Homo sapiens: one gene and its partner. The main gene of each other region encodes a partner of the protein of the gene in region 2 in a complex. Each region holds a gene or a part of one and is shown on either strand. Other genes may lie near its edges.

Region 1 (7,030 bases), on a different chromosome or scaffold from region 2:
TTTTTTGTTTGGATCGTCCTGTCTGTATTTTTCAAGGGCTTTTTGTTTTAATTCAGCTTGTCATTCAGCTTCCTGTTCTGGGTTTGTGGTGCAGTGGCTTCCCCCGATAATGAAGGAGGGTGTCAGCGATCTCTTACTGGGATACCCATCAGTCTCTTTGTTCTCGGATGCGTGTGTTTCTCTTTAAGAACAAAGCGGCCGGCAGCTCTGTGTGAGCGCCACTTCTCATCCAGGGAGGTCAACTGCCCAGTGGCCTGGCAAGGAGCGGGCCTTTTCTTTGAGGTGTGGGGACCCTGAATGTCAGTATTTGAGAACTCTTCCTCTGGCGCTGTTTCCCCGGAAAAGACTCCTGGCCTCCCCCGGGGTGGGGGGCGTCCGTGCTGGGCCGCCTGCCACCTGAGCTGTGCGGAGGAACCGCCAGACTTCCCGCTGCCCAGGCGGCAGGTCGTGATTCAGTCCCCCCTTTTCAGCCTGACCCTGGACCCCCTTGCTCTGCTGGGCCTGTCTCTCTAACTCTAGAGGCCCTTTTATACCAGTTCTTCTGGGAATAAAGTTCTGATCTCCTCGAGGGTTGTGGGCGATCCGAGCGTGGGACCTTCCCCGGGGTGCCGCCCCATTTCAGCTGCTGAGGAGGGACAGTGTGGGTGTTCGGTGGCTGCGATGGCTTGGGTTCGGATGGTTTCTGGTTTTCGGATCAGAGCTTTACTTGGTGAGTGGTTGAGTATTGGTCTGGGTTTAGGTTTCAGTGGGCCAGACTCCACAGGTGCTCCCTGTGACAGCTGGAGCTTGTGTCCTGAGCCAGCCACTGGCCGCTGGGGCGTTCTGTCTGGCCAGTTTTAAGAAGTAACTTGGCTTGCCCTAGATGGATTTGAACTCTTGGCTTTGTTAGCATTTTGCCATCTAAGTTCCTTCTCCAAGTCCTCCCAGCCATCGTGTCATTAGAACGTTCTGGAAATGTCACTAAAATGTGCCCGGAAATAAGTGCATCAAGATAGATTGGTGGCTCTTGGTGTGGCCATCTGCACCTGTCCTGGCCCCAGAAGCTGTGCTGCCTCTTCCGCATGGAGGAGCAAAGCGCAGGTCGCTCCTGAGGCTGAGCTCCGCTCCTCCTGGGCCCTGGGTCCTCCGCAGACACGTCCCACCCACTGCTCTTCTCTCTGCCAGAAGCTGCCGGCCATGAGGACGCATGGGTGGGCGCTGTGGAGAGTGCAGGCTTGGGGGTAGAGACCAGTGATGGCTCTGCAGAGCTTAGCCTCAGAGTAGGGGCGTGGTCCAGGAGAGGCCACGACAGGGACAAGCAGGGCGTTCGCATGCTGTTGAATTCCTTCATGACGAAAGGAGCAGGTCGTCCTCCCGGGAGAGGGGAGCGCTTGATGACGCCCCGAGATCTGTGTGTGGGAGTGCCTCTCAGCACCAGGCCCCTCCTGGGTTCTTGGAGTGCATCCGTGAAAGAAGGCCGATTCCCTGCCTTCTCACACGTTCCCCCGAGCGAGGGCTTGGTTCGGTGCTGAGATGCGTGGAGGACTGTGGTTTCTGTGATGTGTGGAGAGGCAAGTGCGGCTGCGGCCTGGTGGGAGGCTGCTTGCTGGGCTCCCCACGCACGTCCCCTGATGTGAGTTTCATGTCACTTGACCAGGAAATGCTTGAATGTCCTCCAGAGAAAAATGAGGCACTTCATGAACCTGTCCGGGCGGCACCCACACAATCCTGCCCGCCTGTGGGCCGTCCGGAGACAGAACCTCCCAGGCAGCTGTAAGCTGTTGTGGCAGCAGGGACTGTAGGAGTTGGCGTGGCCTGCAGCTGACGGCGCCAGCATGGAGAGGGTGCAGTTCTCCCTGGTCCTGAAGAATGTGTGGCCAAGAAGCCCGAGGCGGGGAGGGTTCCTTGGGGCCAGAGGGTGGCGTTCCCAGCAAAGGACAGTCCTTCTGGTGTCACAGTCTCCTTTTTCACACTGGAATGTTCTTTGTTTTGTGAAGGGATGGCGATGGTCACAGTGGTGGTTTCTCGAAGTTTACGTGACAACATGTAAAAATGGGCATCTCTAGGTGGGCTTTTGTGACATCTGAACTTCTGATGGGGCAGCCGTGATACTGCAGTGAGCTGGGAGGTCCACCTCACCAGTTACCATGCTTGATCATTTTCATAAACTTGCCCAGGGAATAAAAACTGGTTGGGGAGGGCTCCTGGGCCCCCATAGAGTAAGGGGTGACTTCAGGCCCCACCACAAGTCAGCAGTACAGCTGGCCTGTCCCTCAGCATGCCCCTGCACACCTGCGGCCACTGTGGCCTGTCCCTCAGCGTGCCCCTGCACACCTGCCGCCACTGTGGCCTGTCCCTCAGCGTGCCCCTGCACACCTGCGGCCACTGTGCCCTGTCCCTCAGCGTGCCCCTGCACACCTGCAGACACTGTGACACATCACTGCAGACGCAGTAGTTCAGATGACACGGCTGTATCAGCTTCTGGTTCTGGGGTCAGAGTCCAAACAGTCCACAGGGCTCCATTCCTTCTGGAGGCTCTGGGGGACAACTCGTTTCCTGCCTTTCCCAGTGTCCAGAGGCACCTGTGTGCCTTGCCTCGGGGCCCCTTCCTCCCCATTCACAGCCACAGCGCAGCCTCTCTGACTCTCAGCCTCCCGCCTCCTCTCATGAGGTCACCCAGGATCACCTGCCATTTTAAGATCCTCAAGCCCACCTGCACATCCCTTTTCTGCCATGAGGGGACATGTTCACAGGTCCCAGGGATTAGGATGTGGACATCTTTTGGGGGCAGTGATTCACTCAGTCTCATGGGCCCCATCTCTCTGAGCTCACCCAAGACCCTTAAACCAGGGCCCGGGGCCAACATTGAGCAGGCAAGGGAAAGACTACCAGGAGATGAGAGGAGGCTGCCTGGAACTCAGATTTGCACAGAGCCTGAAAGGGCGTGGGAGACCTTGGCAGAGGCCTGCATCAGGAAGAGGATGTTGGGGACTCAGCAGAGCCCCCTGCGCCACAAGCAGATGTGGCAGATCTCCCAGGTGTTACTCAGTGAGGATGCGAAGATCAGTGTCCTCACTGATCTCCGCCTAACAAATTTACATCGAGCCCAAGAGATTAGGTTGGGACAAGTAAGCGTAGCCAACCAGAGAGGGAATTCAGAGGAAGGCGTGAACACTAGGGGCTTGGGCAGTCCGGGATGGCTTCCTGGAGGTGGTGACTCGTTTGTGAGATCTTGGTCTTGTCTTCCCTTTATGCCTTCTCTGGGCTCCCTATTACAATTTCAGGTCTCCAGGCCTTGGCACCCTGGGCTGGAGCGGCTTCCTCTCCATCCCTCATGCCTGGTCACTTGGAGACAGGCTCCAGCTTCCTTGTGTCTGTGCCTGTCCACAGTGGGCCTCAGCCTCCTGGAAGAGACTGGGTGCGCTATGGGGTGGCCCCCTCAGGGCTGGTTAGACCCTGGCGCTGGGAGTGCAGGGTGAGGGGCAGTCTCGAGGGCTCCAGCCCAGCCCGCCCAGGGAGGTCCCAGCAGCAGCCCCGAGTTCTGAGCCATCTTCCTCACTCTCCTCTTGGCCTCCACAGGTGTCTCCCAGTCTGCTAAAGCCCTAAGGCCATCACCATGGACTTCCAGCATCGCCCCGGGGGCAAGACCGGGAGCGGGGGCGTGGCCTCCTCCTCCGAGAGCAACCGTGACCGCAGGGAGCGCCTCCGGCAGCTGGCCCTGGAGACCATCGACATCAACAAGGTGGGCCAGCCACCGTGCAGCTGCCTGTGGTGGGTGCTGGGCTTTCCAGGGCAGCCCTGGAGAGGGTGCCAGAGGCTCTTCTTGGGCCTCCGCCCAGGCTGGGCGATGCAGCCCCGTGTCCAGACGCTCCCCTGTTGCCCCCGAGCAGCCACAGCTCCCATCTGTCCACCCCAGAGAGCAGACCCTCTGTGGCTCTGAGTCCCATGTGGACATGTTTTGTTCTGTCCACAGCCTTCTGTTTTGCATTATTTAATTTTCTGGGAGTGGGGAGAGCTGATGTCAGTCCAGCCAGATGTGGTGAAGGGCAGCCTTTGATTTTAGCTTGTGCAGAGGCAGGGGTGAGCCGAGTCCCCTCAGCACCGTGGACATCGGGGCTGGAGCACTCTTTGTGTACCCTGACATGCCCCACGGGCCTGGCCTATGGCAAGGGCTCTGTTACCGTCCCCGTCTTCCAGATGAGGTCATGGGTAGAGGGGGTGCCACAGCCGCAGATGGTGGAGTTAGACTTTGAACTCCAGCGTCTGAGACGAGATGTGTGCGCCCGGCTGCCCCAGCTTAGGGCCTGCAGATGGGCGGGTCTTTGGGTCTTCAGTGTAGCCCATTTGCTTTTCTTGTGCCTGTGTCTGCCTTGTGCCTACTGCTGGCGTGGTGGCGTGGGCAGTGGACGGCTCCCTGCCTCGGGAGTGACCGGCGGTGCTGTCCTGGCTGTGCCTCCCTCTGACTCAGAACCACCAGGAAGGTGGTGTCGGGGGCTCCCTGGGAACCCCCACTGCTCGAAGCCTGGCCCACAGCCCCAGGTGGTGACACCCGTGCTCACGAAGGCCTCCCGCTGGATCCCCCGTTTTCAGAAATGCTTGACCACTGTCAGCGGTAGCCATGCCTCTACAGAAGGGGGGTTCTGCCTCCATGCCTCTACAGAAAGGGGATCCCGCCTCTGAGGGCCTTGACGGCAGCAGGCCGCGATCTTCTGTCTAACGGGCCCCTGTTCTTCCCCTCCAGGACCCGTACTTCATGAAGAACCACCTGGGCTCCTATGAATGCAAACTCTGCCTGACACTTCACAACAATGAGGTGCGGCCTCTGCCTGGCTCCGGGCGGCTCGCGGCGGGCTGAGTGGCTGACGTCAGGGGGACCTGCCTGTGTCTGTCCGCCCGGCCTCGAGTCATGCGTGTTTCCTTTCCACTCCAGGGGAGCTACCTGGCACATACGCAGGGGAAGAAGCACCAGACCAACCTGTGAGTACCTCATGTCCCTTTGATGCCTGGTGCTCCAGCAGCCGTTGGCTCAAGTCTCTGTGAGCCTCGCGGGCCACTGCTCCACAGCCGGGGAGCCAGCCTGGCCTGAGCCTCCCTGGGCGCTTGAGTACGGTTCCTGGGGAGCATTAGAGAACAGAGGCATGGATGGCTGAGGCGGGCAGATCACTTGAGGTCAGGAGTTCGAGACCAGCCTGGCCAACATTGTGAAACTCCATCTCTACTAAAAATACAAAAATTAGGCCAGGCATGGTGGCACACGTCTGTAATCACAGCTACTATGGAGGCTGAGGCAGGAGAATCTTGAATCTGGGAGGCAGAGATTGCAGTGAACCAAGGTGCTGCCACTGTACTCCATCCTGGGCGACAGAGTGAGACTCTTGTCTTATTAAAAAAAAAAAAAAAGAGCAGAGGCATGGAGTTGTTGGAAGGGCCCCAGCCAGGGACAGTGAGGAGCATGACAGGAAGAGAACATGCCTGTCCTATCCCTGTCCTCAGCCAAACCCCAGGGCCCCTCCCAGGCCCCTGGCCCTCCTCATCTCTCAGCTTGTAGTGAGCTCCAAGGTCAGGGGGCTCCTGGCACCTGGGCCCATGGCTTTGGTGCCTGTGTGTGGAGGGGTCCCAGCAGCACCTCCATCCTGTCCGCAGGGCCCGGCGAGCAGCCAAGGAGGCCAAGGAGGCCCCTGCCCAGCCCGCGCCTGAGAAGGTCAAGGTGGAGGTGAAGAAGTTTGTGAAGATCGGCCGCCCGGGCTACAAAGGTGAGTCTGCCCGCAGCGGGGCCGGCCACAGCCGCTGCCGTGACATAAGTGTGTTCTTTAGTCTCCAGTGCGGGAGGTGCAGCCCTGATAGCCTCCTCCCTGAGCCACTGTTTTCCGGCCTTGGTGGCCGTCCCTCACCCACCTGCAGCCTCTGGCGTTGTGTCTGGGAGCTGTCAGGCTGGGCCCGATAAGCACCCATCTCACCCAGCAGCCCATTTCCCAGCTGAGCCACAGTCTGTGCCCTCCTGTCCGGGTCTTGTGGAAGCTTCTGGGAATTCTTGCCAAGCAAAAGAGTGGAAGTGGAGGTGTGGTGAGCCCTGGCACATCCCTCCGGTTAACCTTGAAGCCTTTGAAGGAGGACAGGGAGAAGCGGCTGTTAGAGGCAGCTCCTCCCGGACCCTCAGCAGTGGGAATGGCTAGAGGTGACCCCGGTTCAGAAAGCTGGGGAAGTGACCAGGGTGGAAGATAGAGACTTGTGTCCATAGGGTTCAGGAAGGCGGGCACGCTACCCAGCAAGTGTTCTTTACAGAAGGCGGGGACAGCCTGTGTGCCTGGCCTCCAGACAGAAGCCTGCAGGGCAGAGGTCCCGGGGCAGGTGCACCGGGTGGGCGAGGGTGGCTAGAGCGGCAGGCTCCTGGTGGGGAGGCCCTGACAGGTCCTGGGCTTGGGCTCAGGACGGTGAGGCGGCAGAGGGCTTGTGAGTGTGCGTGTCTGAGGCCGCATGGAGAGTGGCCGGGCGGCAGGCAGCCCAGCAGCCATTCTCGGGGTCCAGGCTGCTGAGCTCTGGCGGGAAGGGCATCCTCTCTCGCTCACCGTATACATGGTGTCAGCCCTGTTCAGGCGGCCCCGCTCGAATCCCAGAGCCAGGGTGCCGAGGGCCCCTCCCTACCCAGTGGCCCCAACTCCTGCTGGGTGGTATCCCAGCACCCCTGGTGAAGGGCTCTGGGGATTGGGACAAAGGAGCACCATCCTCGGTCCCTGCCTGAGTGACTCCGCAGGTAGCTCAGCTCTGGCGCACCTGTGCCTTCACCTATACCAGAATCCCAGAGCCTGGGCGGAGATTGTCTAATGGTTGCCAGAGCTGCAGGGCCTCCCCCGGGGTCCCGCTCTCGTTCAGTGGGTGGCATTAGCCTGCCCCAGGTTCCTCAGCTTCGGAGAGGACAAGCAGCCGGGACCTGAGAGCTTTCTGTGTTGCAGTGACCAAGCAGAGAGACTCGGAGATGGGCCAGCAGAGCCTCCTCTTCCAGGTGAGATCAGGGACTTGGGCGTGGGGGGCGGCCAAAGGCACCCAAGAGGCG
Region 2 (5,285 bases):
AACAACTGAAGCATGCATGAAGTTCTTCAACTTCAGGGAATCCATGAACCTCCCCAAACAGTACACAAGTTGTGTAGTGTAGTGTGTACATTTTTTTCTGGGAAGAGGTCCTCTAATTTGAATTAACTTCTAAAGGGGCCCAGAGACGCTAACAGTACAAGGTAGAATTCTAATCTGTTTCTTTAGATTTTTAATAATAATGGGAGCTGTAGACTGCAGGAAGTTCACTTTTGCACATCTGAGAGTCAATTTTAATGGAAAGAGGGTAGAAAACAAACAAGAGTTAATTTGCAAGGACTGGGCAGAAAAAAAAAATCCAGAGGGTTGTTTTCTGAGTTTAGGAACATGTTCTGGTTTATAGAGAGGAAATGGAGACATACGTGCTAATACCAGCGGGAAGCAAGGAGACTCCAAAGAGATTCTTCAAGTCCTCAGAAAAGCCAACCTTCAGTATAAATAAAGCAATATCAAGAATTTAAAATGCAATTTAACTCAAGTCCAATTTTCAGTTTCTGCATATTATCAACTCATTTTTATTGATGAATATCACAAACTTCAATCAATACTCTTAAAAATATTATTCTGCATGCATTTAACAAATCTGACAAAAGAACAAGTATCCAGTTTACTTGCATTGTAACTATGACATTTTAACTAAACAATCAATTAACATATATTTAAAACCATTAGGTACAGGTAACAATGAAACACTTCAATGCTTTAATCTGATGGCATCCTACCACTATGCACATGTTCATGTAACACTACTAGTAATTACCCTGAAGCACAGGCAAATGTAGATGGAGGACTCTCCCTAAAAAGCAAGTTTAAGGGATTAAATATCATCGTCATCATCATCGCTACTGAGAATAAAGCTGCTGCCAGTGGATAGGGGCCCTTCTTCAACACTCCCAAAACCACCCAAAGTCCCCCTCTCATCAGAATCGTCAAACAACTTCTCACTGGAATCTTCCTCCTCATCAAACAACTTCTCATTGGAATCATCATCTTCGAACAACTTTTCGTCAGCATCTTCAACTTCCTTTCCATCTGCATCTTCATCTTCCTTGTCATCTGACTCTTCAAACAGCTTTTCATCTGCATCACCTTCTTCCGCCTTTTTATCAGCAGCTTCAAGCCCCTTTTCATCTGCATATTCTTCATCCTCTTTCTCATCAGACTCATCATCAAATACTTTTTCATATGTATCCTCCTCTTCTTCCTTTTCATCTGAATCTTCGTCAAACTCTCTCTCAGAGCCTTCCTCATCTAACACTTTTTCAGAGCCGTCATCTTCAAATTCGGAGTTTTCAGAGTCATTTTCTTCTAACTCTTTGTCAAGAACATTTTCATGAAGCTCCTTTTCAGAACCTTCCTCGTCCAAATCTTTCTCGAGACCATTTTCTTCAAATTCTCTTTCGGAGCCATCTTCAGACTGTTTTTCAGAGCAGTCTTCATCAGACTCTTTCTCTGAGTCATCTTCTTCGGACTCTTTTGTGGGGCCAACCTCCTCTTCAGACTCCTTGTTGAGGTCATCTTCAGATTCCTTTGCAAGGCCATTCTCTTCACAATCATTTTTGAGTGTCTTCTTTTTAGACTCTTTTTTAGGACTATCCTCTTCAGATCCTCTTACGGGATTGCCTTCTTCAGACTCTTTTTGGGAGCAGCTGCCTTCAAACCCTCTTTTGGGGCAGCCCTCTTCAGATTCTTTTTCAGGGCAGCCTTCTTCAGCCTCTTTTTCGGGGCTACTTTCCTTAGCATTGTTTTCAGAAGCACCTTCTTCAAATTCTCCCCCATCTTCTGTCTTTTCAAACTTCTTCTCATCTATAGGTTCTTCAAACGCCATTCCAGTTGCAGTTTCTTGAGCATTCATTTTAGATGTGCTGGGGTGCTCTGAAAAATGCCTTGCTCTAGAAGGCCCTGCCCTTTCGGAAGCAGAGACAGAATCTGAACGCCTAAGGCCTCTGTTGGCCTCAGGAGCATTGAGGAAAGCCTCCCATCCTCTCAGCCTTTCCTCCCTTTCTCTTGAGGTTTCCTCCACCTGTGGATAAATGGAGACTGCCATTAAAATAAGTTTCAGGCAAAAGGTTACTTCTCTGAACATATCTAATATTGATGAAACAACCTTAATTTTATAAAGCATCTCTTATTAGGAAATGAAAGCAATTCCATCTTCAGTTTTCAAAACTTTACATCTTGATTTACTAGAGTTGACCTTAAATAAGACCACTTAAATAAAGGCCAAATATCACAGTACTGCAGAAATGTCTCATCTCTTAAAAAGTTAATATTTGAGCTCTGTCTATACTTTACAGCATACAAAGGAAGAGTAACATTTGGTTGAATGTGTTCTTTTCTTATCACTATTCTGAACAAGCCTCAAACTTTCAGACTTAGAAACTGAAAGACTCAAACATTTCTCTATCTTCTGAATGCAAAATATTATTTAAAAGCAGCACTGTAAATAATTAAGAGGAAGAGTAAAAAATTAAAATATATAAGTAAATAAAAATAAAAGAAGCATTGTTACATTAAATAGGTTAAACCAAACCCAAAATTTAGATCTGAAGGATCAGTATTTGTTGGTAATGAAACAATGTGTGTGCCCTTGACAAGCAGCAAAATTTACCTGATAATCTGTAGTCCCATCCCATGCCTGGGCAGTGATTTGACGGCCACCAAACCATCTTCCATCGAGAGTCTGAATACAATAATCAGCTTCCTCTGGATCCCGAAAGGACACAGAGGCCACACCATCTGGGTGCCTCTAGAAAGATAAGAAAGAAAAAAAAGGAATGAATGATAAGATTAAAAATAAAACACATACATTTCACAAAGTAGGTAAGTAGTAGTGTTCTCTCTGATACTCTGAAGTAAAAGACTTTATGTATGAAGTCTTTCTTCCATTTTATCCCAGCCAGTCACGTGCAGTCAGCTGCTTCTTTACCTCAATCTTACCTAGCAAGAACCAAGCACAATGTCCTTGGAAATGTTTCTGCTGACATCCCTGTCTAATGAGAAGCAGGACAGTATAATTGTTAAGAGTGTAAACTCTGAAGTCATATTGCCCTGGGATTAAATCCTGGCTCTGTCAGTTACCAAATGAACAACCTTGAGCCAGGTGTTCAATTTCTAAAGTGTTAGCTTCCTCATCTGTAAAATGGGTGTAATAGTGCTAACCTGCCTCAAAGGGTTTTGAGAAGTGAGATAACATGTAAAGTAGCTTGTAATACACAAGCAATAAATGGTGACTCTTAATTATTGGGTGTCAATTCTGGAAGTAAAAAGAGGATGAGAAGAGGAAATATACAGGAGAATATTGTCCCTGATTGTTCCAAATATGGAGGATGAGAATAATTCACAAAGAGGGGAAAATGTGACTAATAGGGAACCAGAGATCTCATACATTTTTCCTGTACCTTCTTTCACCTGATCATGTACTCTAGGGTAATGAAGACGGAAAATAAGCAAGGCATACCAAATCTATCAAATCCTTGGCTTGTAATCCACGTTCATCTCATTATTGCTAATAGATGATTATCACAAGATAGTGGACTACTATATAAAAACATTAATCTAAAATTCAGGGGTATACTAACATCTGAGAAGAACTTATAAGGTGGAGGAATTATTGCTTTAGGATCCATATGTCCAAGCCATGAACTTACATCAAAGAGAAGGAGTTTCCTAATTTGTCCAAACTTCGAACACTCTACTCGAAGGTCTTCTCTGATCTCATTCAGCACCAACGGATCATCCTGAAAAATATGCATGATTAAAATGGGTTTGCTCCCTTCTTTAACTATAAATCCTGAGAATCCAATTTCTTGTTCTGATAAATCAACAAACAGAAAAAGGTTTTGCTTAAGGTTGTGTTTTTCATTCTATACAATTTTTTAAAAACTCAAAATCAAATAAAATTATACTACTACATACACTGCTACTCCTATAGGTTTGCCCTGCTTTAAACAAAGGAAATGGACAAGTATGGCAGGCAGCAGAAGGGGCCTACAGTGGCAGAGCAGGAGAAGATGGTGGAAGTCCTGTGGCGCATATTCAGTCAGACTGCTAATTCCTATGCTCTGCATGGGCATCAACATCACACTGATAAGAGCCCTTTGCTTTGTGTTTTGGATACATTCCTATTTACAGAAATGTTGTAATGGAGAGAGAGAGAGCAATATATCCCTTTTATTGACTAAGTGTCCTAAGATTGATTTTTGTGCTTCCAAGATGCTATTTTAACTCACAGAATAAACATCGTAAGGATTACTGTTCGTCTTGTCTCCTACCACATTGTAACAGAACCATACAAATAAGGAGCTGTTATTAAGCATGCAATAAAATACATTCTTAGCTGTTGCTTTCTTGCAACTATGAGCCTATTAAGAACATTCAAGTACTGCTGTTTCTAGTAGCCTAGAGTTCGGGTGGAAATCTCCCTATAACAACAAAATGATTTAAGATTCCCTCTGGGAATTAACAAATCTCTCTCCAAGTACCAATGCATAAAAAGGGCTCAGGAAAAGCTACATTATCAGCTTGAATTTCAACTATATACAAATATAAATGAAGATATCCTATCTACAAATTTCTATTGAAGGTGACTTATACTTTCTAGGAAACATTTAAGCGCATCTATCTTTCTTACACGCTTTCATTTTTCTCATCAGCTAAAGAGGAACTATAGAGAATTGTGGCTTTCCTCCCATAAGGTTCTTCAAAAAGCAAAAATAAGCTGGCAGGGAGTTACTGAAATCTGATTTAAAATAAAAAATATAAAATCATACTCATTTGCATAAATCTGAGGCTTCTAAAACTACAGTTGGCAGAACTCTGGACTTCCCCACTTATAAAACTCAATTTTGGAGAAGCAGCCAATTTGCTTTATACAAAATGATCAGACCTGAGAAGAATAAGGAGTAGAGAATAAAAGTTATGGCTTTTGACATGTGTGTGTGTGTGTGGGGTTAGCTCCTATTAGAGTGAGTGCTTTCAGAAGGCAGGACCTTTGTTTTATTGAGTTTCAGATACCTCACAGAAAATAGCACAGACTTTTGTACAAAGCCAATATTCAAGAAAATCTTTTTAAGAATTTGATAAACTGTTTCTAATACCTCTCTTTTATTCACCAAGGAAAATCAGGATTATATCAAAAACAAAAAAAAAACTGTGTCAACATGTTTAACAACTTTTAAATTGAAGCGTGATTCCATGGTGGGGGTAGGCATCACCTCCATTTCTACACCAATGTCTCAGTGCTTTGCTTTCTTTCTTTTTTTTTT

What was found. Proteins that work in one complex are often made in the same cells at the same time.
Region 1: HTATSF1 (region 2) and SF3A2 share a complex: the UniProt entries of both Homo sapiens proteins name them as parts of the 17S U2 SnRNP complex.

Annotation. Positions count from the first base shown.
Region 1 is NC_000019.10:2,239,824-2,246,853, forward strand, and holds part of SF3A2 (splicing factor 3A subunit 2), read left to right. Parts: intron 1-3,558; 5' UTR 3,559-3,595; coding exon 3,596-3,721; intron 3,722-4,720; coding exon 4,721-4,792; intron 4,793-4,909; coding exon 4,910-4,956; intron 4,957-5,622; coding exon 5,623-5,732; intron 5,733-6,929; coding exon 6,930-6,979; intron 6,980-7,030. UniProt on the Homo sapiens protein: Component of the 17S U2 SnRNP complex of the spliceosome, a large ribonucleoprotein complex that removes introns from transcribed pre-mRNAs.
Region 2 is NC_000023.11:136,507,564-136,512,848, reverse strand, and holds the end of HTATSF1 (17S U2 SnRNP complex component HTATSF1), read right to left. Parts: intron 3,759-5,285; coding exon 3,669-3,758; intron 2,768-3,668; coding exon 2,630-2,767; intron 2,042-2,629; coding exon 836-2,041; 3' UTR 503-835; downstream 1-502. UniProt on the Homo sapiens protein: Component of the 17S U2 SnRNP complex of the spliceosome, a large ribonucleoprotein complex that removes introns from transcribed pre-mRNAs.